3 separate regions of the Homo sapiens genome follow, and all the other regions are linked to region 1. Evidence: fine-mapped expression QTL. Tissue or cell type: aorta. Region 1 holds a variant in brackets; each other region holds the start of a gene. All regions are shown on one strand. Distances are between the middles of the regions.

The links. PIP is the estimated chance that this variant, and not a neighbour inherited with it, causes the effect.
Region 2: it holds the start of MKKS, and the variant in region 1 is fine-mapped to the expression of MKKS in aorta (GTEx, PIP 0.99).
Region 3: ANKEF1 starts here. The variant in region 1 is fine-mapped to the expression of ANKEF1 in aorta (GTEx, PIP above 0.99).

Annotation. Positions count from the first base shown.
Region 1 is chr20:10,297,715-10,305,442 of GRCh38, forward strand. It overlaps SNAP25 (synaptosome associated protein 25), which reads left to right. Exons shown (of 8, transcript NM_130811.4): 7 at 1,554-1,698. Among named protein-coding and RNA genes, the nearest start is that of SNAP25-AS1, 82 kb to the left of the region's middle. RefSeq lists an enhancer at 2,782-3,699. The variant G/A (reference allele first, on the strand shown) is at 3,008.
Region 2 is chr20:10,429,703-10,437,430 of GRCh38, forward strand. MKKS (MKKS centrosomal shuttling protein) reads right to left here and starts at 4,520. Exons shown (of 6, transcript NM_170784.3): 1 at 4,406-4,520. It overlaps SLX4IP (SLX4 interacting protein), which reads left to right and starts at 5,603. Exons shown (of 8, transcript NM_001009608.3): 1 at 5,603-5,751. It overlaps LOC128706665, which reads right to left and starts at 4,520. Exons shown (of 3, transcript NM_001394148.2): 1 at 4,406-4,520. LOC128706666 reads right to left here and starts at 4,520. Exons shown (of 3, transcript NM_001394149.2): 1 at 4,406-4,520. RefSeq lists enhancers at 1,915-2,416, 4,367-4,426, 5,317-5,546, 5,707-5,756.
Region 3 is chr20:10,030,939-10,038,666 of GRCh38, forward strand. It overlaps ANKEF1 (ankyrin repeat and EF-hand domain containing 1), which reads left to right and starts at 4,049. Exons shown (of 11, transcript NM_022096.6): 1 at 4,049-4,395; 2 at 4,641-4,704; 3 at 7,320-7,709. The coding sequence starts at 7,364. The region is part of intron 3 of SNAP25-AS1 (SNAP25 antisense RNA 1); the gene reads right to left. RefSeq lists a silencer at 3,840-4,389.

The sequences.
Region 1 (7,728 bases):
AATGCTGTAGCCCCTCACTCCTCTTGCCCTGCAGTTTCATTGGCCATTAGCCAAAGCCTACTGAAAGCCAGAGGGTAAGAGGAGCTGGGTGATATAGTCATGAGGTCAGCTCCTGAGAGCACAGAGCAAAGAAGGTCCAAGAACGGATTTGGAGTGAAAATAGAGAATAATGAGCTTCTTATTAATGATTTATTTTGAAACCTAGAATCAAAAGCCAATTTAAATATCTATTTTTAAAAGTTCAAATTATGACTCAGGGGCATTTCCTTTAAAAAAAAAAAAAACTCAAGTTACACACATCAGCCAATTCAGAACTCAGCTCTCCCTTTGCTCCCAGGGAAAGTAGCCCAAGGGTTCTCAAGCCTGGCTGTACATTAGAATCACCAGGGGAGACTTTTTTTTCTTTTACTACCAGTGTTTGGGCCCAATCCACACCAATTGAACCAGAATCTCTTGAAGTGAGACACAAGCACCTGTGGCCCATTAAAGCTCCTCAGGTGATTCTGATATGCACTCAGGGCCAAGCACCATTGAACTAGAAGTATCTCTTAGCTATTGATGATCATTTAAATAAACTTCTTCCCTACAGGAAAAAGCCAGAAAGTTCTCCTTTAGTTTTTTAATTTTCTCTGCCCTGGGCTGCTTTTGAAACCATAATGAGCCAGTCTGCATTGGGAGTTACCATGGGGGAAGGATTTTAACCCTTCTGAATATTTTTTAGCTCAATACCATATATACTAGGGAAATTCTGAAATAAGTACCTCCTTAACTTTCAAGTTGGACTGTGAAAAAATGTAATGTGTTTTGTGAGCCAGCTCCTTCCTCCCATTCCCATTCCACTCAACCTGAAACAATACTCTTTTGTCACAGTTTCACAGTTTTTGACTCTGAAATCACCTATGCACCATGCCACTAAAAAACCCATGTTATTAACATATGAGTAAATAAAAATCATCTTGAACAAGTAGCTCTCCTTGGAGTTCCTGGGAGCAAGCAGGGTTAAGGGGCAAACTGTAATTATCATTACTCTTCCCATTGGTGTCAATCCCAAGTGTGAAAAGAGATGAGCACAGAGACTCTGACTTAGCACAATAAGCTTTTTATTGTATTCTTAATTTGAGTCTTAGAAATTTTGAGACTTAATTTGAGTCTTAGAAATATTAAGAATATTCTTAGAAAGAAGAATATCGTTTCTAATTCCATCTTCGTGCTCTGACCTAAAGTCCTTTCAAAGAAAATGTTTTCATCCTTAAACAATAAAAATTGAAATAAACATATGAAGGGGAAACAACATAATGGAAGGAGTGAGAAAGTAGATAAATTAATCTATTTAATATACCTTCTTTAAGAATAGAAATTCAAGGGTTCAAAAAGCAATTTTAAACATTTTTTTTAAATGTATGAAAGCTAAAATGTGTTTTTGTACTGGATGGAGATTAAAGATAGATAAAGTTGATGCCCAGAGGACGACAGATTTCCACTATGCTTTGGGTCCTTGGTATTCAATATGTTTTCCACCCTCTGTCTTCTAAAACTTGCTCTTTGGATCCCAGGGTAACAAATGATGCCCGAGAAAATGAAATGGATGAAAACCTAGAGCAGGTGAGCGGCATCATCGGGAACCTCCGTCACATGGCCCTGGATATGGGCAATGAGATCGATACACAGAATCGCCAGATCGACAGGATCATGGAGAAGGTGAGCACGTGGCAGTCAGCAAGTCCCTACTGCGAGTCACTTCTGAAATGACCAACAGGAAGTGTGAAGGGCATAACAAGATCCTCAAAACACGACCTTGGATTCAGGCGCACTGATAGCTGGAAATGTTCTTCATTTTCCAAGAGAAAAATATAGGACTCAGCAACAGAATTGGAGTGAAAATAAGAGGGTCAAATTTAATCCAGCAAATATTCTCAAAGGCTCCTGTCAGCCAGGCATTGTGCTAGGCACTGTGGGCCATGTACACATGAGAAAGACACCACCCCTACTGCCAAGAAATTCACGGCCTATGGGAGGCTACGAGCCTCCAGATGAATTTTCTATCACTCAAAATATAATTCACTAAGAGATCCACAGATAAAATGCTAAACAAGGTTAGATAAGGAAAGATCTCAAGAGGCAAAGTTCGGGAAAATCTCAGAATAAGTTGACTTTGAATTGAATCTTGAAGGATGGTTAGTATTAATAGTTTGTCAAGTGGAGGTGGTGAAGGGATAGAATCAGAAAATGGGAGAAAGAATAGTCAGTATAGCCAGGACATGATTATGAGCTTTGCTTTTATAAATGCCAAAGCTTTAATGAGAATTCAAAAATATCCAGGTTCCATTTCCAGTTTAACAGTTCACATCCCCAGTTCTAAAAACAGGGAATTTTATATGATGAAATTGAGTTTACACAAGGACACCAGACTTGGCTCTAAGATCCACCATGTCAACGTGGGCCATAAGAAAGACTGGAGGGAGTAGACTGGGAAGGGGTGGGTTTGGGGGCTTAAAATTAGAAGAGATTGGAAAGAAACACTGGAACGTTCCTATAAAGAGACCTAGGGCACCAAAACCTGATATTCTACAACACAGAACTCCGACATAATTTATATTTCCATGTTTCATGCCCTTTCCTCAATCAGTAGGGTCTTGAATATTGATTACAAACTCTTATGTCCAAATGCTAAAAAGGAGAAAAAGAGACATTATAGATTTAACGATAATTGTACATCTATAATCTACTCAATGTGGGTAACTTATGTTGTGTGTTTATTCCCTGGGAGACGTTGAAGTTCTTTGTCTGATATCCTAAATTTTCTTATAATAATTCATTCCATTTTGGTGAGCAGAGAAGGATACTTTTAAGATTTTTAGAATCATAAATCTAAATAGTAGTTTCTTGGTATGCAAGCAACCTCCAATGACTTGAAAAAGGAGTAAGTAGGCATAAAGGGAACACTTTGTCCTGTTGTGTTGTACATACTCCATGTTAAAAATATCTGATTGCATATTTTGCCTGATCA[G/A]TATGAAAACTACGCAAACTTTAGTGTTGGTTGGCAAAATACTTGTGCTTTGCTTACTTTTGCAAGTAATGGCATGCTTATCGTTGTTAAGAAGGCTTTCATATGATAAAGCTTTTAAAGCTGTGTAAATCAATAGATATTAGAATAATAATGAGAGTTTCAAAACTCACTAGAGCCAACACAAGCTGACCTAACCCATTACGGCCCAGAATAATGAACTAAAAAATCATTGCTGAGCTGCCCTCCAACAGAAAAAACAATTTGAAAAAAACAGGAAGTATTCATTTTCTATTAATGGACCCACTTTACTTGCAGATGCAGCTAGATAATGCATCAAAGCCAATTAGGGTTCCAGAAGGAGCGTCTTTACTAATAGAAGGGTCAAACTCTTATTGACAGAGTTGAACTTTAAGCAAGAAAATGTGTTCCTGGAAAGGCAAGTGGCATCTTGATTCTGCCACTTTGAATTTCTAGTTCTCATCTTTAGGGAGAAGGTTTTTCTTCTACGCCCAGTGTACTATAAAGACAGAGACATATGCAGCTACAAGGTTTAATCAGAAGCCAGGCAGGTGGATGGATAATGACTATTTCAATTTGTATCATTCCTTGAGTGCAGAATCATTTAAGTGGGAGAAGGGTCTAATTGCCTTTGAATAACTAGTTTCCAGTCAGCACTTTAAATAGCCCCTTTTTTTTCCAGAATCAAAATCCACACATGATTTAAATAGAGCCCACTTCAACCCAGCATTGCCCCAAATGATCATGTCGCATGAACTGCACAATTATTAATAGATTTCCACCTTCTCATTGAAGTTCTCATTTCTGATAACGGGACAGTATGTGGAAGTTTCCTGCATATCTAAGATGTAATTGCAATCACACTGTAGGGGTAAGGAGAGTCTTATGATGTTTCTCTCATAATCTCTCATGACCCCAACAGCAACCTTTACCCAGCTCTATCAATCATGATCTTTTCTCATCACTTGGATCAATAGTGAAGTTTTGGGAGTCCTTAACAATGAGATTTTCAATACATCCTCATGGATTGTCAAGAAATTACTTTATTTAAAAATCTCGTTTTCTGCTTAAGGGTATTTATGTATATAAATAATAACCTTATATATATAAATAAATAACTATATATATTATATAATATATAATATATATATTATATGTATATGGTTATTATATATATATAAAAACCATATATAAAAATAACCATATATAGATATACCTTCTAAGGTTAAAAACATAATTTTTTCAGAAAACTTACTGAATTGGAAGCAAGCCTATATCAGAGGGTTTATGGGAACTGTTGCTAAGGAAATACCTTAGCAATGTTCAAACTTTGATTTAAAGTTATCAGTGGTAAGTTAGGCATGCAGTCCCAGCTACTCCAGAGGCTGAGGCAGGAGAATTCCTTGAGCCCAGGAGTTCCAGGCTGCAGTGAGCTATGATCGTGCCACTGCACTCGCACTCCAGCCTGGGCAACAGAGCAAGATCCCATCTCTAATAAGTAAATATATAAATAAAAATAAAGTTGTCAGTGGTAGATGACAGGCACACGTTGGAATACAGTGAGGCTGATTCTTTAGCAGTCCTCACATTCTTCTATCAGTGAGAAAACACAGCATTTGAGAGCTAAGACTTTGAGTTCTAACAGGGTTTTGCCATTCACCAGCTCTGTGACCTGATTGCCTCACCTGAAGGATAGTAAGAGAACTGTTCAAACCTAGGATCAGAACAGGCTGGAAGTATGAACTGGGTTCTAAAAGTCACCTGGCATGGTCTGAAGTTGAAGAGATTCCCGGAGCGTTCAGAAGATGGGCTGAACAGCTCCTTCTAAACTTTTACTGGCTCTTTGGTGGTCATCCTGGCCTTCTCACAAGGACAAACATGTAACATATGTTGGGCACTCCAGCAAATTTAGAATTTTCTAAATAGAAATATAAAAATTGGAATGGGACAGCCATCATAAATAAAGTCCTACAGCATATAAGTAGGGTGATCATAGGGGCATTCTCCAAATACCAGGAAGACATCTACAAGGAGATTCCAGACTTTTTTTTTTTTTTAAAAGAAGCTAATTCTTTTATATAATAAAGGGGCAGTACTTTCTGTGTCAAATATTGCATGGGGTGGAATTTTCATATGCTTCAGAAGTAAGTTAGGTGGAAATCACAGATGCTCATTGAACATAAGTCTGTTTCAGCTCCTCCCAGATCCTTTAAGGATATACAGAGTAACCTCATGCTCTACTTCAAATATCCCCAGGTGAAGGCCCCTCAGTGCATTCTTGTACAGGAGATCCTAGAATGTTTGCGCTCAGGAATGCCATCATTTTAAAATGAATTATTTTTCTCATTTGAGCTTTTCAGAGCATTTAGTCTGGCAACATAATAATTCAATCTACAGGAACATTTCACATTGCTCTGATCCTGTAACTTTCCTTTGCACTGAAGTGTCATTATTTCTGATACCATTTGTAGCTGGAAAGGGAGGGCTTAAGAACCAAGTAAAATTGGTGAGATTATCCATTTTCCAATTGAGAAACCTGAGGTCAAAAATGTGAGTCTGTAGTTCAAAACAATCAAAATCAATGCCCTATCTTACTATGTAAATACTGATTTTAAAAGACAAGTGTCAATTATCCAAACAGATGACAGAGAACCATTGCCAGGTATTCAAAGTTATGATTAATCTGGAAATATGTTTGTTTTAACTTTGCAAATTTCTATTTGAACATGGATAATTCTAATGTCCTGAGAATTCACGATATGAACTGAATACAGAAGACTCAGCTCAATAAAAATTGGGAAGTACAGCACCACAATAGGTACAAAGCTGGTAATCATTGAGTGATACTGGTTGAGAGAAAAACAGTTTGGTTTCCCCACACTGCCTGGCAGCCTCCTCCTCTTCTTCCCAGGCTGTAGAAGGATAGACAGCATTACCAGTCAGGGAAGGACAAAAGAAAAGCCTCCATAGAATCGTTGTCTTCACCTCTGGTTGCTGATGCATTTTTCTCAGTGGTGATGGGAATCATTCATTTTCTGGAATTTAAAGATTTATGCTGGTAGCAGCCCTAGGTTTCATGCTGCATATACAGCAAACATAACCCAAGCAGTAAAGAGATCAACCAAGAGATTAAAGCCAGCCAGTTACAAAATCATAGTAAATGTGCATCTGTTAAAGAAAAGACAGTTATTAAACTCATAGAAATGAATCTTCAGAAATGCAACTTAAAAACTATTAAGCATCCCAGAAGCAAGCCAAGTTCTCATACGGTAACAATAATTGCAAGATAAACTAATGAGCCCTTCGTTTTGCAAAACATTATTCCAAGCACATTATGTGTATAAACTCATTTGATCTCAGCAAATTGAATAGTAAGTGATGAATAGTGTGGACTCTGACTCCAGGTTGCTAGCATTCAGACTCTGGTTTCTCCATTTATTAGTACTAAGACTTCAGACAAATTCCCCAGATCGTTTCTGACTGCTTTTCTCATTTGGAAAAGTGAGCTAATAATAGTACACACTTTATAGTTGATATTGTTAATCTTGATGTTGTCAAAGTTTAATGAGTGGAACAAAGTACAGTTGACCCTTGAACAACATGGAGATTTAGGGTGTCAACCCCCATGCAGCTGAAAATTTTTTGACTCCCCCAAAATTTAACTACTAGTAGCCTACTGTTGACTGGAAGCCTTAATGACATAAAAAGTCCATTAACATCTATGTTTTATGTATTATTTACTGTATTCGTATGATAAAGTAAGCTGGAGAAAAGAAAATGTTATTAAGAAAATCATAAGGAAGATAAAATACATTTATAATACTATGCTGTATTTATTGATACCATCAGTTTATATCATTTGTTTACAAGATGAATCATCAGTCTGAAATCTTCAGTACACATTAAGCAATTCAACTTTTTCTTGAAATGTCGTGACTTTTTTTTGCTTTTTGGGAGCACTGCTAGCATCACTGGTGGCACTTTGTATGGGTGCATGATGTTATTCAAGGTTTACAGTATTGCACTAAACATGATTTTTTTTAAATGTGAAACTGCAAGAGATCACTTTTTACTGCACTATGCAATTTACTGGAGAGATGGTGAGGATGATTAGTATCACAGAGCATTTTAAACGGATGCTCACAACACTTGAGTTCACCACAATAATAGGAGGTGGCTATGAAATTATTAGAGTAGTACAGTATGGACTACAGTTAATTTTATACAATTATGATTTAATACTTCACCTTTACATTTCTCTCAACTGCAAATAGGCCCATGTATGGTCTATATTTGTTTAAGTCTCATCAATTTTAACTTTTCATAGTAGATTTATATGTATTTTATGATAGTAAATAATAGACTAGACTAGTATCTACATATATTTTATCCATTCATGACATGCCTAATTTTTTCTAAATTTTCTCAATATTTCTAAGTAACACATTCATCTGCAAGTTTGTCTTAATTGTTGCAAATCTCCAAAGCATTTTCCAGTGTATTTATTGAAAAAAAATCCTGGCCAGGTACAATGGCACATGCCTGTAATCTCAGCATTTTGGGAGGCTGAGGAGGGAGGACTGCTTGAGCCCAGGAGTTTGAGACCAGCCTGGGCAACATAGTGAGATCTCATCTATACAAAAAATAGAAAAATTAGCCAGGCATGGTGGCATGCACCTGTGGTCTTAGCTATTTAGGAGGCT
Region 2 (7,728 bases), 130 kb after region 1:
CATAAGTGTTTCTTTACATAATCCCTCCTCCCTAGGGTCACAGTCCAGACCCTCGCGCCCTCACATGACCTCCTTGCTTCAATTCCAGTAGTTCTCAAACTGTGGTCCTCTCAACAGTGCCATTAGCAACACTTGGGAATTTACTAGAAATGCAAATTATCAAGCTGCCCCTCCTGACCTACTGAGTCAGAAACTCTAGGGTGGGGTCCAGTAATCTGTGTTTTAATTAATTCTTTAGGTAATTCTGAAGCTAAAGTTTGAGACCCACTGTTCTAGTCTACATCCACTAATCCATTCTCTACACTTTTAATATAGCCATCTTGCAAAACAAAAAACAAAAAAACAAAAACAAAAACAAATCTGGTTGTATTCCTGCTTTGCTTAAAAGCCTTTAGTGACATTTTTGACTAGAGTGAAATCTAAATTTCTTAGTACAGCAGAAAGAAAAATCCACTAGGATCTAGATCCTGCCTACCAGTTTTCAGAAAGTCAAGCACTTTAAATCATTTTTGTAAGAATGCATTGTCATGTAGTGATTAAGGGATGAGCTGTGGACTCATACCACCTGGCTTTGAATCTTCACTTACCACTTTACAACTGGCTGTGTGGCCTTGGATTAGTCACTTAATCTCATTGTGCTTCAGTTCCATTGTGTGTACAATGTGAATAATAACATCCATATCATAAGCTTGCTGTGCAGTTATCACAATACTTGGCACTTTGTCTGGGCTCAGTAATTGTTAGCTATTATTATTTTGATTATGTCAAAAAGAAAAAAAACATTACTGGAATTAACCTGTAGTATAGCAAGAACTGGAGAGGATTAGAATTAATGCCCAAACTAAGGGAAGTGGTCCCCATAAAGGAAGGCCCACTTCTCTGGGCAGTTTCAGTTAGTTAGCTAAGAATAAAAATACCCAGTCTCAACAGAGAGGTTCAGAGGTCTTTGGGGTTTGACTAGGGTAGTGAATCTGGTAATTAGATTCTAGGATATTATAGGACAGATAACTGTCAAGCTTCTAAAGTGAGAGCCAGGAAAGCTGTGAAGGAAGTCAGAAAACTGATACAGAGCAAAGAAGCAAAGACGGTGAAAAATTTCATGTATGTTTCTCTAATAACAGTTAATAGAGCAGCCAAGTGATCAAATGTGAGAATCCTACAATGACTGAAACTTGGTCGACATTTTCAGACACGCTGTTGGTCTGAAACAACGTTTTACATAAGAGCAAAAGCATTGAGTAATGGCGAGAATCAAAGTCTAACCTCCACCACAAATTAGTTATGGTCTTGGACAAATTACTTCTCTCCTGCCTCAATGTCATGATCTGAAATAGGGGGCCACATTATGAAGAGAACTATATACATTCATAGCTTAGTACAGTGCCTAGCATGTGGGAAGTGCTCAATACACGGCAGCCATTACTTTTATTGGGAGTATATTATCTTATACGAATCATATATAAAAATAGGCACCCCTGGAGGTTCCTGCTTGATCAAAGCAATTATATATTATCATCGAATATTTTGACTAAAATTGGGTTCCAACTTATAAGGTGAGGAAATACTGTAAAGACAAATCCAAACACAGTCATGTATCCCACATTCACAATATTTAGGGATTAGCAATTTTCACTTCAAATATGTACAAGATTAATTCTATCCAAATGCTCACTTAGTGTCTATTAGGTGCTAGCAAGACTACTAGCCTCAGGGGGGAACTACCAAGAAGAGTAAGGCATGATTCTTGTCCTCAAGGAGAATACAGGTTTGAGAAGATAATGGGACAATCTTAATAAAACATAACTCAATGCTGTATAGGGTCAAAAAACCAAACCAAACCAAACCAAACCAAACCAAACCAAACCAAACCCGCACAAAAAACTGCATAAAGTCTTTACCAAGTTGACTCATTTTTCAAAATCATAGTTCTCATTTTTTCCTCTATCCTCCTCTGAATTAGTCTCAATCCATTTTTACTTACTCCATCTTTAGTTACGGCAGGGAGTCAAGATCTAGAAAAACTAGTCACTGCCACCCACGATAACAGAAGGTAGCAGCCACTTGTCTTCTCTGCTATATTCCTAGTGCGTAGCAGAAAAGTAGAGAATCTTGTCCCCTTTGGTCCACAGAGGATGGCTTATTCTTCTGCTTCAGCTCTTAGTTCAGATGTCACCTACTCAGAGAGCCTTTCTCTCAGCACTCAACCTAAAGTGTTTTCCCTCTCCCTCCCCATTATTCTCTAGCACGTGATTCCTTCAAAGCCCTACCTTTGTGATGAATGCTGTGATGTGCCACCCTGACCCCCCTAAGGAATGAAAGGCTTATTTCCCCAGCTCCTGGAAGAGCTGAGACAGACCTCGGCTGCCAGCCTCCGTCCATGATTGACTTGGCTGAAGAGAGTTGAAGTTAGGCCCTTTCCAGGGAAACAGACATCTAACGACAGATCAATCAAGGGGTATAAAAGCCTGGCCCTTCTCTTCAACTTTGAAGGGCCAACCCAGCACTAGAGTTCCTGTGGGACTGGTGGAGAACATCCTTGAGACTTCACTGCAGCTTAACTTTTTCTATTGCCCAATCCTGCTTCCTTTCTTCCTTGGTAATCATCCAAAAAGTCTTCTCTAGTAAATGTCCTGCCTCTAAATCTCCTCAGAGTCTGATTCTCAGGAAACCCAACCTAGGACAATCTAGAAACATCTTGCTCAATATCAATGTGCAATCACCCCTCAGTATTTGGGGGATTGCATCCAGGACCCATGATGGATACCCAAATCCAGATGCTCAGGTCCCTGATTTAAAAATTGTGTAGTAGGCCAGACGCCGTGGGTCATGCCTGTAATCCCAGCACTTTGGGATGCCGAGGCGGGTGGATCACCTGAGGTCAGGAGTTCAAGACCAGCCTGGCCAACATGGCGAAACACCATCTCTACTAAAAAATACAAAAATTAGCCAGGTGCAGTGGCGGGTGCCTGTAATCCCAAACTTCTCCGGAGGCTAAGGCAGGGAGAATTGCTTGAACCCGGGAGGCGGAGGTTGCACAGTGAGCAGAGATCCAGCTTCAGCCTGCGCGACAGAGCGAGACTCTTTGTCAAAAAAAAAAAAAAAAAAAAAAAAAATCGTGTAGTTTTGTACACAACTTGCCACCTCCTTCCATGTACCTTAAATAATCTCTAGGCTACTTATAATACCTAATACAACGTTAAATGCTATGTAAGTAGTTGTTACACTGCAGTGTTTAGGGAATGACAAGAAAAAAGGTCTGCACGTGTTCAGTACAGATGTAACCATCTTTTTTCCCCCAGAATGTTTTTATTTATTTATTTTCTTAAATAGAGTCTCTGTCGCCCAACCTGGAGTGCAGTGGCGTGATCTCCGCTCACCGCAACCTCCGCCTCCAGGGCTCAAGCGATTCTCCTGCCTCAACCTCCCAAGTAGCTGGGATTACAGGCGTGCGCCACTGCGCCCGGCTCATTTTTTTGTACTTTTAGCAGAGACCGGGTTTCGCCACGTTGGCCTGGCTGGCCCCAAACTCCTGACTCAAGTGATCCGCCCGCCTCGGGCTCCTAAAGTGCGGGGTTACAGGGGTGAGCCACCAAACCCCGCCGCCCCAAAATATTTTCTATCCGCAGTTGGTTGAATTCACACATGCGGAACTCATGGATAGGGAGCGTATTGTTTCTCCCCCATCACTAGAACATGGAGTCAGGACCGTGCAAGTCCCTCTTGGTCACTGCCGTATCTACTAACTCGGCAGTGCTGTAGACACGTGTATATCTGTTTATGGATAAACTGAAGATGTTAATGAATGAATGAAACCGTCATATTGAGTCTCTGAAACGGCAACAGGATTTGGGTATGGTCTTATCGGGGAGGAAGACGAGCATGACCTTAGAGGGTCATCCCTACAAGGTCCACAGCCCTGCAAGCCCCGCGGCTGCTTTCACGTAGCTGGCAGGGCCACGCTGCACAACGTCTCTAACGCCGTCGGAGGGCGGCCCCCACCTCCCGACAGCCTGGGGTACACCGTGCACCCTCCAGACAGTCAGGGGCACACGGGGCCCCTCCCAGCGAGGGAGGGGACGGGGAGTCACAGGTTCGGCGTAGAAGGCGGCAGCGCAGGTGGGAGCGTGGTGAGGCGCCACTCCTCCAGCTCTCCCCACCGGCGGGAAGACCTCCTCGCCGCCCGCATCCGTGCCGACCGCAACATTTACCATCGGCAGCTATTTCAGAGGTCGGTCTTTCGCCTCCTACAGAGAGCCAGCCTCCTCCTTGTCCCCGCCCTCAAATATCCTTCAGTGAGGACACCGGTGACCTTTGGGGGTGGAGAGGGAGGCGCCTACAAGCCCCTTCCCCTCTCTTCGGCCGGACACAAAGCGGGCTTTTCCACCTAGAGTCCCAGCGCTCTCACCTGCGCACCAGCCGTCGCGCCGCCCCAGGCCGCCACCGCCAGAGGCCCCAGAAACAGATCTCAAGCAGCCGCTGCTGCCGCGGATCCCGACAACCTTCGCGTCGCGCGAGGGCACGGAGCACGCGCAGCTCTGCGGTCGACGCCGGGCCGCCCCCACTCCGCTTCTCCGGGTTTTCCGTGAAGCTCCAGCCAACAGCGGCCGTCACCGGAAAAAACGGGGAGCGAAGTTTATTCAGCGTATATTCCAGCAAATTGTTGAAACTGAAATTTTAAAAGAACGCATAAAATTTAAATAACATATCAAAATGGCACAGCTTCTGCCTTTTGGTGAGCGCTTGACAATGATTTATTGAATGAAAGAAAGAAATAGTCCACTGCGCTCTGCTCTCTGTCCTGACATGACCAATTACAAAGCGCTTGGATTTGTCGCTCAGCGCCAGTATCCCGCCTCTCTGTGCGGTTGTCTGGAAAATCAGGATTTTTACTCTCCCGTAACTCCCGGGATCGGGTTTGGAAAACGGACATGCGCCGTGAGAGCTAGTTGCCTTCTACTAAAGCATCCGCCCTCAGTCCTTCCTGAGGGCTTACAGGGAAGTGCGGAGTTTCGCAGCTCGTACTCTTCACAGATTAGATAATTCACCCGGCATTTCCCCATCCTGCTTCTGGGTTCCAGGACAAAACTTTTATTCTCTTTTAACATTAAAAAACATATAGGAAGTTATGTTCAAACATGGCTATTTTTATTAAAATTTATCCGGCACTGTGAAAGCTACCTTTCCTTTCTCACAATCTTTCGCACCGAATATATGTTCCATTCTTGAGCTAGTCATTTTCCAATGTTAAGAAAACACACCACAGAAAAGCGTTTTTTTTTCTCTCGGTCAGTTCAACTGCCTAGCACCGTGAGTTACCATGATACGTTATTTGCTAATGAGAGTCATTGGGGTCCCAGCCTTTAAAAATAGCCTGCGTCCGGCGCCATTTTTGTTTTGGGCCCACTTTGAAAGCCGCGATATTCTGAACAGAGGCCATTTTTCTTTTGGGCAGATTCCACGGGCCATCGAAGTGTTTCGCTGCCATCTTAAATCCTGGCTGTGGCCTCAATCCTGCAGCGAAGCTGCCCAGATCATTTTGTGTTTGGGCGGCGGCTGAGTTCCCAAACGCGCGCGGAGACCCTGGGAAGGAGGAAGTAAGCGCGAAAGTGCTTCCCTTAAGCTTCTGAAGGTTGGCTGCAGTTCCGGCTACCTGTGTAGTCCGAGTTTCCACAGCCAGGTACTACTCCGCCAGTGACCCTGGACAGTAACAAAACATATAAAGCCCGAGCCCAAACCCCGCCACCATCATAGGTAAGCACATGGACCTCTGACAACCTCAGATGTTCCTTCAAGTGAACTGAACTGTTTGCCCATCTCCTCCCTCCTGGTTTTTGGCTTTGATTTTTTGAGACTTTTCCGAATCCTTCTCCCTGTACTTCCACCTTTCTTCATTGTTTTCAAAAAGCCAAAAAGTTGCTAAACATCAGGATGCCATGAGCATGGGCATTACGGTGGAGATATTATTCAGGAAAGTTAACTGTCTTTGCACAAAGGGAATGCAGTAGATGGGCCAGGTATTTGTATCAAATCATGGCTACCTGCATCCAGCAGTACAAATACCTCCCCCTTCCCAGACATTTTTGGAGATGTGAGGTAAATACAGATTGCGTTTGTATATACTTCCCATTCATTCATTTATTCATTGCATTTCTTGAGTACCTAATTTGTGCTAGGCCATAAGGATTCAGGAGTTAGCTAAAAAAAATCCATTAACTCATGGAGCCTACATTTTATCACCTTGACATCTACTAGGTTGAGACAAATAACAGTATTTTATGGTTCTTAGCACTGCTAGACTGTATAAACAAGTATTTGCTTTCTCCTTCCCCTGAACTATTTTTTTTTATTTTTAGTTTTTAATTTTTTTGGCCGGGTGTAGGAATTAATGGTATTGACACTTACTTCTTGGATCCTAGACATAACGATATTTGTAAGCCAGTTGGCTAGCGTTAAAACTAATATTCCAGTTACTTAGGGCCTTGTTGCTCCAAGTTCATTTCACCTACCACCAGCATCAGCATCCCTGGGAGCTTGTTAGAATTACACTTCATGACTCTCACCCCAGAGCTGCTGAATCAGAATCTTCCTCAAGAAGTGTACCTTAAAGTTCAAGGAACATTGATTCAGGGCATGGGCTAAAGATACAGCCCTTTCTTTCTTTCTTTTTTTTTTTAGATGGAGTCTCGCTCTGTTGCCCAGGTTGGAGTGCAGTGGCGCGATCTTGGCTCACTGCCATCTCCGCCCCCCGGGTTCAAGCAATTCTCCTGCCTCAGCGTTCCCAGTAGCTGGGATTACAGGCGCGCGCCACCACCCCCGGCTAATTTTTGTATTTTTAGTAGAGACAGGGTTCGCCATGTTGGCCGGGTTGTTCTCGAACTCCTGACCTCAGGTGATCCACCCGCCTTGGCCTCCAAAGTCCTGGGATCACAGGCCTGAGACATCACGCCCGGCCTGGCCCATTCTTTGTTCAACCCGTGCTTCTTAACTAGATTCACAGTGTATTATCAATTTATTGCATGTTCTAAATGCAATGGATATTTGACAGGTTTTTTTCTGTGCTTTTAGTTCATTGACTTGATGTTAGGGCGTCAATTTAGCTTTCCAAAAAGTTGAAAAGAGATTTTGTCATCCCAATATACTTATATGTAATTTCTGTTATAACATCTGAAATGTAGGGTTTTCTCTGTAAGTCTTAGCATCCAATTTACCACTGGTTTGCGTTTTTTTTTTAAAAGTTGTTTACTGTGCTTCTTGCTTTCTCATATCTTGTATGCATATTTGTACTTTTAATTTGTTAAAAGTTGAACTCAAAAGTTTGCATGTGGACAGCAGTTCAATACTGACTTGGAAAACCTTGGGCCTTGGTTTACCAAAGCTTTTTGTGGCACCTTGCTTTCTTCTGTCTTCCCATTTTATTTTACTTCTTTTATTTTTATTTTTTGAGACAGGGTATAACCCTGTTGCCCAGGCTGAAGTGCAGTGGTGGGATCATAGCTCACTGTAACCTCCAACTCTTGGGCTCAAGCGATCCTTCTGCCTTGGTCTGTCAAAGTGCAGGAAAGCAGGCATGAGCGACTGCACCCAGCTGCCTTCTGTCTTTCTTTAATGAGAAGACTAAATCAAGAGTTCTCAGCCTTGGCTGCACGTAACAATCACCTGGGAGCTTTAAAAACAGACTCCAGCCCTGTATCTGCAGAGATTGAGACCCTCTGGATGAAATTAAAGAGC
Region 3 (7,728 bases), 270 kb before region 1:
TCAATCAAACAGCAAATGCTTACCCAACTTCTATTCAAAATATTTGCGCCAGTAGTTCTGATATGACCCAAGCAGAGTTCACACATTATTAATCTACTCCTTTCAGTCTTCTAGATGTGTTTCCTCCAAAATCTACCAGATTCTCAAATAATTTCAGGAACTTTCTCCAGAACAGAAACAAGGTTGTTACTGATACCAACTTTGTCTCCAAACATGGGGAAGATTATCATTGGAAAGATCTATTGATGACCTATAATACATAGTTGGAACTGTTTATCCACAGAAGTATTCCCCAAGAATCAACCACAGAGCCAAGATGGAGCTTATGTCATTGTTATGCATACTTCTTTTACGGCTTGTGAGGGCAGTTCATACTATTCTGATTTTACAACTGAGACCCAAGGAACCTGAGTGACTTCTAGGCTCCATTATGTCAAAAAAAACTCAAATGTGAGGCTTTGCCTACACTGAGAAACAGTAGTTCAAGAAACGGTGCCCTGGTTCTGTTAAAATAATCTGAGAGTTATGTGGTAAGTAGTTGAGAGTGAATAGGGTAGCTTTGAGAGGTGACAGCGTGCTGGCAGTCCTCACAGCCCTCGCTGGCTCCAGGCGCCTCCTCTGCCTGGGCTCCCACTTTGGCGGCACTTGAGGAGCCCTTCAGCCCACCACTGCACTGTGGGAGCCCCTTTCTGGGCTGGCCAAGGCCGGAGCCGGCTCCCTCAGCTTGCAGGGAGGTGTGGAGGGAGAGGCGCGAGCGGCAACCGGGGCTGCGCACGGCGTTTGCGGGCCAGCTGGAGTTCTGGGTGGGCGTGGGCTTGGCGGGCCCCGCACTCGGAGCAGCCGGCCAGCCCTTCCAGCCCCAGGCAATGAGAGGCTTAGCACCCGGGCCAGCAGCTGCGGAGGGTGTACTCCGTCCCCCAGCAGTGCCAGCTCACAGGCGCTGCGCTCAATTTCTCACCGGGCCTTAGCTGCCTTCGCGCGGGGGGTGCTCGGGACCTGCAGCCCGCCATGCCTGAGCTCCCACCCCCTCCATGGGCTCCCGTGCGCCCGAGCCTCCCCGATGAGCACCACCCCCTGCTCCACGGCGCCCAGTCCCATCGACCACCCAAGAGCTGAGGAGTGCGGGCGCACGGCGCGGGACTGGCAGGCAGCTCCACCTGCAGCTCTCGTGCGGGATTCACTGGGGGAAGCCAGCTGGGCTCCTGAGTCTGGTGGGGACGTGGAGAACCTTTATGTCTAGCTCAGGGATTGTAAATACACCAATCGGCACTCCGTATCTAGCTCAAGGTTTGTAAACACACCAATCAGCACCCTGTGTCTAGCTTAGTGTTTGTGAACGCACCAAGCCACACTCTGTATCTAGCTACTCTGGTGGGGCTTTGGAGAACCTTTGTGTCCACACTCTGTAGCCAGCTAATCTGGTGGGGACATGGAGAACCTTTGGGTGTAGCTCAGGGATTGTAAACGCACCAATCAGCGCCCTGTCAAAACAGAGGACTCGGCTCTACCAATCAGCAGGATGTGGGTGGGGCCAGATAAGAGCATAAAAGCAGGCTGCCTGAGCCAGCAGTGGCAACCCGCTTGGGTTCCCTTCCACACTGTGGAAGGTTTGTTCTTTCACTGTTTGCAATAAATCTTGCTGCTGCTCACTCTTGGGGTCCACACTGCTTTTATGAGCTGTAACACTCACTGCGAAGGTCTGCAGCTTCACTCCTGAAGCCAGCGAGACCACGAGCCCACCAGGAGGAACCAACAACTCCAGAAGCGCCGCCTTAAGAGCTGTAACACTCACCGTGAAGGTCTGCAGCTTCACTCCTGAGCCAGCGAGACCACGAACCCACCAGAAGGAAGAAACTCCGAACACATCCGAACATCAGAAGGAACAAACTCCAGATGCGCCACATTAAGAGCTGTAACACTCACCGCGAGGGTCCCTGGCTTCATTCTTGAAGTCAGTGAGACCAAGAACCCACCAATTTTGGACACAGTTTGACAATAAATTTACACTCAAATATCTCTAAGGAATCAAACTTACAGATTAATAATTAGTAATCAGGTCACGTAAAGTAAATTATAAAAGAGCATTGATACCAAGATTGGCAGAAAGTTTTTTGTGTGACAAAACCAAGTTTTGGCTAAGATACACACTGCTGATGGGAGTCTAAATTGCTGTATATGTCGGGAAAACAAGTTGTCTTTATCTTGATGTTATAAATAACCTATGACCCAGAAATTTAACTCCTAGACATATACTCTAGTGAAACTCTTGAACGTGTGCGTCCAAAGACATTTATAAACATGATCTTAGTAGTATTGCTTTTAGTAGCAAATTCTGGAAACATCCCAAATGTCTATCAATAGTGGAATTGATTTGAAAGGGGTGTGGAATGGTAATATAATGGAATAGCCTACAGCTGTTTAGATAAAGGAACTCCAATTAAACATACCAACAAAGATACATTTCAAAAACAAGACGTTGAAAGGAAAAAAGTCATCAAAACAATACACAACATTCTACCACATTTTTATAAATTCTCAAAATATGCAATATTAAACATGCATTATTTAGGGAGGCATTCAATGTAGCAATGCATTTTTAAGAGGCTGGGATGATAAATGTAAAATTCAGAACAGGTATTATCTCTGGGAACAGGAAGAGGAGGATGCAGTGTTGGGAAGAAATACATATAAGTACAGCAGTAGAGGCAGACTTTTTTTTCCTTTTCCTTTTTCCTTTATTTTTCCTAGCTTTCTTTTTCTTTAGCTATGGTATTTCTTTAGCTATGGTATGGTATGGTATGTACTTTCCATATATCATACAGTATATTTTGGTGTGCATGAAATAGTCCTTAATAACATTTTTATTATTTTTTATTTGACGTTTAAGTTCAGGGGTACATGTGCAGATTTGTTATATAGGTAAACTTGTGTCATGTGGTTTTGTTGCACAAATTATTTTCTCACCCAGGTATTAAGATTAGTACCCATTAGTTATTTCTCTTGATCCTCTCCCTCCTCCCACTCTCCACCTTCTACCCTCCAATAGGCCCCAGTGTGTGCTGTTCCCCTCTATGTGTCCATGTGTTCTCATCACTTAGCTCTCACTCATAAGTGAGAACATGCAGTATTGGGTTTTCTGTTTCTGCGTTAGCTTGCCAAGGATAATTGCCTCCAGCTCCATATTCCTGCAAAAGACATAATTTTGTTCCTTTATATGGTTGCATAGTATTCCATGGTGTATATGTACCGCATTATCTTTAGCCAGTCTATCATTGATGAGCACTTAGGTTGATTCCATGTCTTCGCTCTTAACATTTTTAAACAGTCTCTGAGTAGAATAGGGTAGGCTGGTGTAAGGAATTACTGTTTTTAATTGGAAGCAATTACATACTGCATTAAAAAGCATATATATATAGACACACATATATATGTTTTACATTCACATAATCAAACCAAAGCTTTCAGAATTTTCCGCCAAAAAGCATGTGTGGAGGGAGAGAGAGGGGTGTTATGGTGCATTTGTAGGCCCTGAAATAAAGTGATCTCCATATTTGCTTCCATTTGTGTATAAATATTTTTTAAGCATATATGCATCCTAGAGTATGGAAAGAAAATTTCTGGGAAGATTTGCAAGAATCTGTGGCAGTTGAGAGTAGGTTCACTTTCGCTTTATTGTGTAATTTATTGTATTTTTCATTTAATTGTACTTTGTAAACTAAATATTTATTGTATATTTTACTTCATTTTTTAATTGCCATATGCAGCTTTAATTTTATAACTAAATTACGTTCTGACCCAGGGCAGGAGGTGGGAGAAGAGAATGAGAGAAGGGCGGAATCCTCAAGACAGCAGCATTCTGCGCTCCGCCCTGGAACACCCAGCGCAGCTACCCCATCCCGCCCAGGCCGGCCACCTGGCGTCGAAGCCAGGCGCGAGGGGCGGAGGCGGAGGCGGGGGCGGGGGCGGAGGCGGAGGCGGAGGCGGAGGCGGAGGCGGAGGCGGAGGCGGAGGCGGAGGCGAGCACCGCCCCACCGCGCACGCTGCGGTTGCCCCGGCAGCCGCGCCCTGCGTGGCGGAAGCTCACAATCAGCCCGGTCCCTCCGGCTTCCACCCCGCCCCCTGCGCTCACCTGCCCGCGCGCTCGCCTTCCGGGGACCCGGGGCCCATGGACACATACACCCAGCCCTGCTGTCCCGCGCGCCAGCTCACCAGCCCTACCCAAGGGACATCATTCACGCCTGGGCGCCTCCGCCGGGCTCCGGGAGCCCAAGGTCGCGGCTGGGCCAGCGCTGAGCGTCAGAGGACGAGAGCAGGGGCCTCCCCGGTCGCCCCAGCAGGCCCAGGCACATAGGTGCCCAGAGATCCCTGGCTTCTGATCGCCCGGAAGACTAAGAGGTGAGCATGACACATGGCTTTTCCTTTGACGTTACATCTCTACCCCCTCCACTCCTCTCTTCTCCAGATTTTTCTGGAGACTAAAAAGTGGAAAGCACAGTAGAGAACCCCCAACATGTAAACTATCGCTTACACTTGTGGGTGAGCTGAAACCCGCAAAAGTTTGGTGTATTCATAAGGAGCCTATATTGAAGGACTTTGCTAAATGTTTTACAAGGATCATATCTCATTTCCTTTTCACACAGTCCCATGAAGTGGGCACCATTGCTATTGCCAGTTCACAGATGCAGAAACTGAGGTAAAAACTAGGTAGGTAGCATATCCATATTTATATCCAACTAGTTTGTGTAAATAATGATACAGGGAAGGGAGGATCACAACGGATTTCCCCACCTCAAACCCTACATTCCACTGTACCAAGCTTGTCTTCCTCCATTCCTCTTTCTAATGATCCTTCCTTGTCGCACAGCCCCCCTTTGAGAGTTAAATGACCTGAACACACACAGATTCCCACAGATTTTCATGTAATTTCCGAGTATTCAGACCCCGAACATGGACCTCAAGTCAAGACATTCTGCTCTATTCCACTACCTTGGTAGATGGTTAGATGTGACTAAGGTGGCCCAGGGTCATGCTGGGGAAAAGTACAGGTGTGCTTGTATGTGGAGGATCCTATATGCTGCTCAATTTACAAGGAACCCAGGACCCAAGGGCTACACTTGTGTGATTTCCTGCAGTGGGGTGAGCTCTTGGTCAGTCTTAGCAGTTGATTGTGAAGGACACTATACAGGGTGCTGCCCTCTCCCCAGCACTTCAGGGCTTTAGCTGGGAGGGAGGCAGTCCACAGGAAACCGACCCATGGACCTACTGAATTCATCACTGTAGCTGCTAATTAATTCTCCGTTAGAGATGGGTGCTAACAGAGGCAACATTGAAGTCCCTGATTGGGAAATCCTTATTTTCACAAATCAAGTGGCATTGATTCAGTCTAATCATTACCTATGTAGGAGCATCTTGCCCTATTCCATAGATGACACATATACATATGCAGTATGATGACACCGCACCTAATCGGAATATGGCCGATAATAATAAAACAAGCCATAAATAGCAGCTAAGGTGAGTGTCACCAAGCCGTGCAGCAAAGTCCAAGTGGATGACTCTGAGGCAGCCTCAGTTGGTTCCCTAGTCCACCGCATGTTATAAACAGATTAAAAGGCAAAGGAGGCCTGGCCCGGTGGCTCACGCCTGTAGTCCCAACACTTTGGGAGGCTGAGGCGGGTGGATCACCTGAGGTCAAGAGTTCAAGATCAGCCTGGCCAACATGGTGAAACCCTGTCTTTACTAAAAATACAAAAATTAGCCAGGTGTGGTGGTGGGCACCTGTAATCCCAGCTACTCGGGAGGCTGAGGCAGGAGAATCGCTTGAACCCAGGAGGTGGAGGTTGCAGTGAGCCGAGATTGTGCCACTACACTCCAGCCTGGGTGACAGAGTGAGAGTTGGGCTGAGGGTCGAGGGTCATGGGATAGGGCGAGACACCAGGGGAGTGTGTGAGGACAGAAAAGAGTCTTGAGGACCTAGCCCTGGGCACCCAACATAGGCTTCTTGAAATGGGGAGTCAGCAAAGGAGCCTGAGCAGGAGGGGGCATTGGTGTTGGATGGAAGCAGGCGATGGAGATGTTGTGGTGCCTAGAGAGACACATTTAAAGGAGAGAGAGCTCACTGCCGTAGAGAATGTAGGTGAGGGAGCAGGCTTGCGATGGAGAAAAATGGTGCATAGTTTCAACTTTTGTAGTAAGATGGAATCTTTTCATTGCAAATGTTGGAAACTTAGCTAACTAGCTTATACCAAAATAAGGTGACGGGGGAGAAGATGTATTTACCCACAAAGTGGTAGATGGCTTCTGGCACCATGGAATCCATGTTGCAACTAATGCCATCAATCTCAGTCTCTCTCCATCCTCCAAGCATGGACTCTCTCTGTGGCACCCAAGAGAGCTACCTGCGCCCCAGCCCCACACCATACTGCTTAACAACTTCAGCAGAATAGTCTTCCCTCATAGTTCTGGATGATGGGCTGCTGATTGGTTGATGTCTTTTATGCACATATGCTTGAGCTTCAGTGTACCTGGAAAGGGATGGTTCCCTCAAATGGGCCAAGCCTAGGCCACAGACGCTTTCCTCTGGCAGGGGACAGAAGGGACAGCCCCATCCAAACGACCCGGATAGGATTCCCTATGTGATAATGGAGTTCTTTTCTCATAAGAAATGAAGAAACAACTGGTCATACCTAGCATGGCCTGCTACTCAATCCAAAAGATTTTCCGTACAAGGAGGTAAAATTACATACTAGAATGCCCATCACAATTTAACAGGGAGATTGTTTATGAAGATTTGCAGTTTCCTTGCAGCCATTTAACTACATCTTTTCCACTTAAGATGACATAGGAATCACTCATCACATCTCTGATATGTTACAGAGCCCAGTAGATTTGTTTATAATGAACACCTCAAAATTATATGTTTTTATAACACCTTAAAACTATTAAAACCTGCATGATCTCTCTATTTTGCTGGTGTGAAACCATGTAGATAGATGGTGGGAACTCAAACCCTTACCATGGCAATTTAGTTAACCTCAGCTTCTTCATGGTAAAATGGTAAAGTGTGATGAGGAGGGAAGGTTAAATGGATAATAAGAAAACCACCTGGCAAACTATTTTTAATTATGATGGAAGATTTGTTTGAACTGTTTTAACTTTATGCCCACTCAATATTTTTGATATTTATGTATAAATCCTACTTTCTGAACATTTCTTAAAAAACAATCTCTGTTCTTAAGGAAGTTCCAAAATATTGTTATTTAATCAAAATGAAGATGATAAAATTAACTTTGAGTTATTTTTCTTTTTTGTTGCTTCAGCTTTAGTTTTGGTCCAGAAAGCATTTTCAAGGAGCTGGTCAAGCATGGCTTTAGCAGATAAGAGACTTGAGAACTTACAGATCTACAAAGTTCTTCAATGTGTGCGGAACAAAGACAAGAAGCAGATAGAGAAGCTGACCAAGCTTGGATACCCTGAACTAATCAATTATACAGAACCCATTAATGGACTTAGTGCTTTGCACTTAGCCTCAGTTTCCAATGATATTGATATGGTCAGCTTTCTCCTTGACCTTGGTGCTCACCCTGATGTGCAAGACCGAATGGGCTGTACTCCCACAATGAGGGCTGCAGAACTGGGCCATGAATTGTCAATGGAAATATTAGCAAAGGCAAAGGCTGATATGACTATAGTTGATAATGAAGGAAAAGGTAAAAATCCCGACATCCT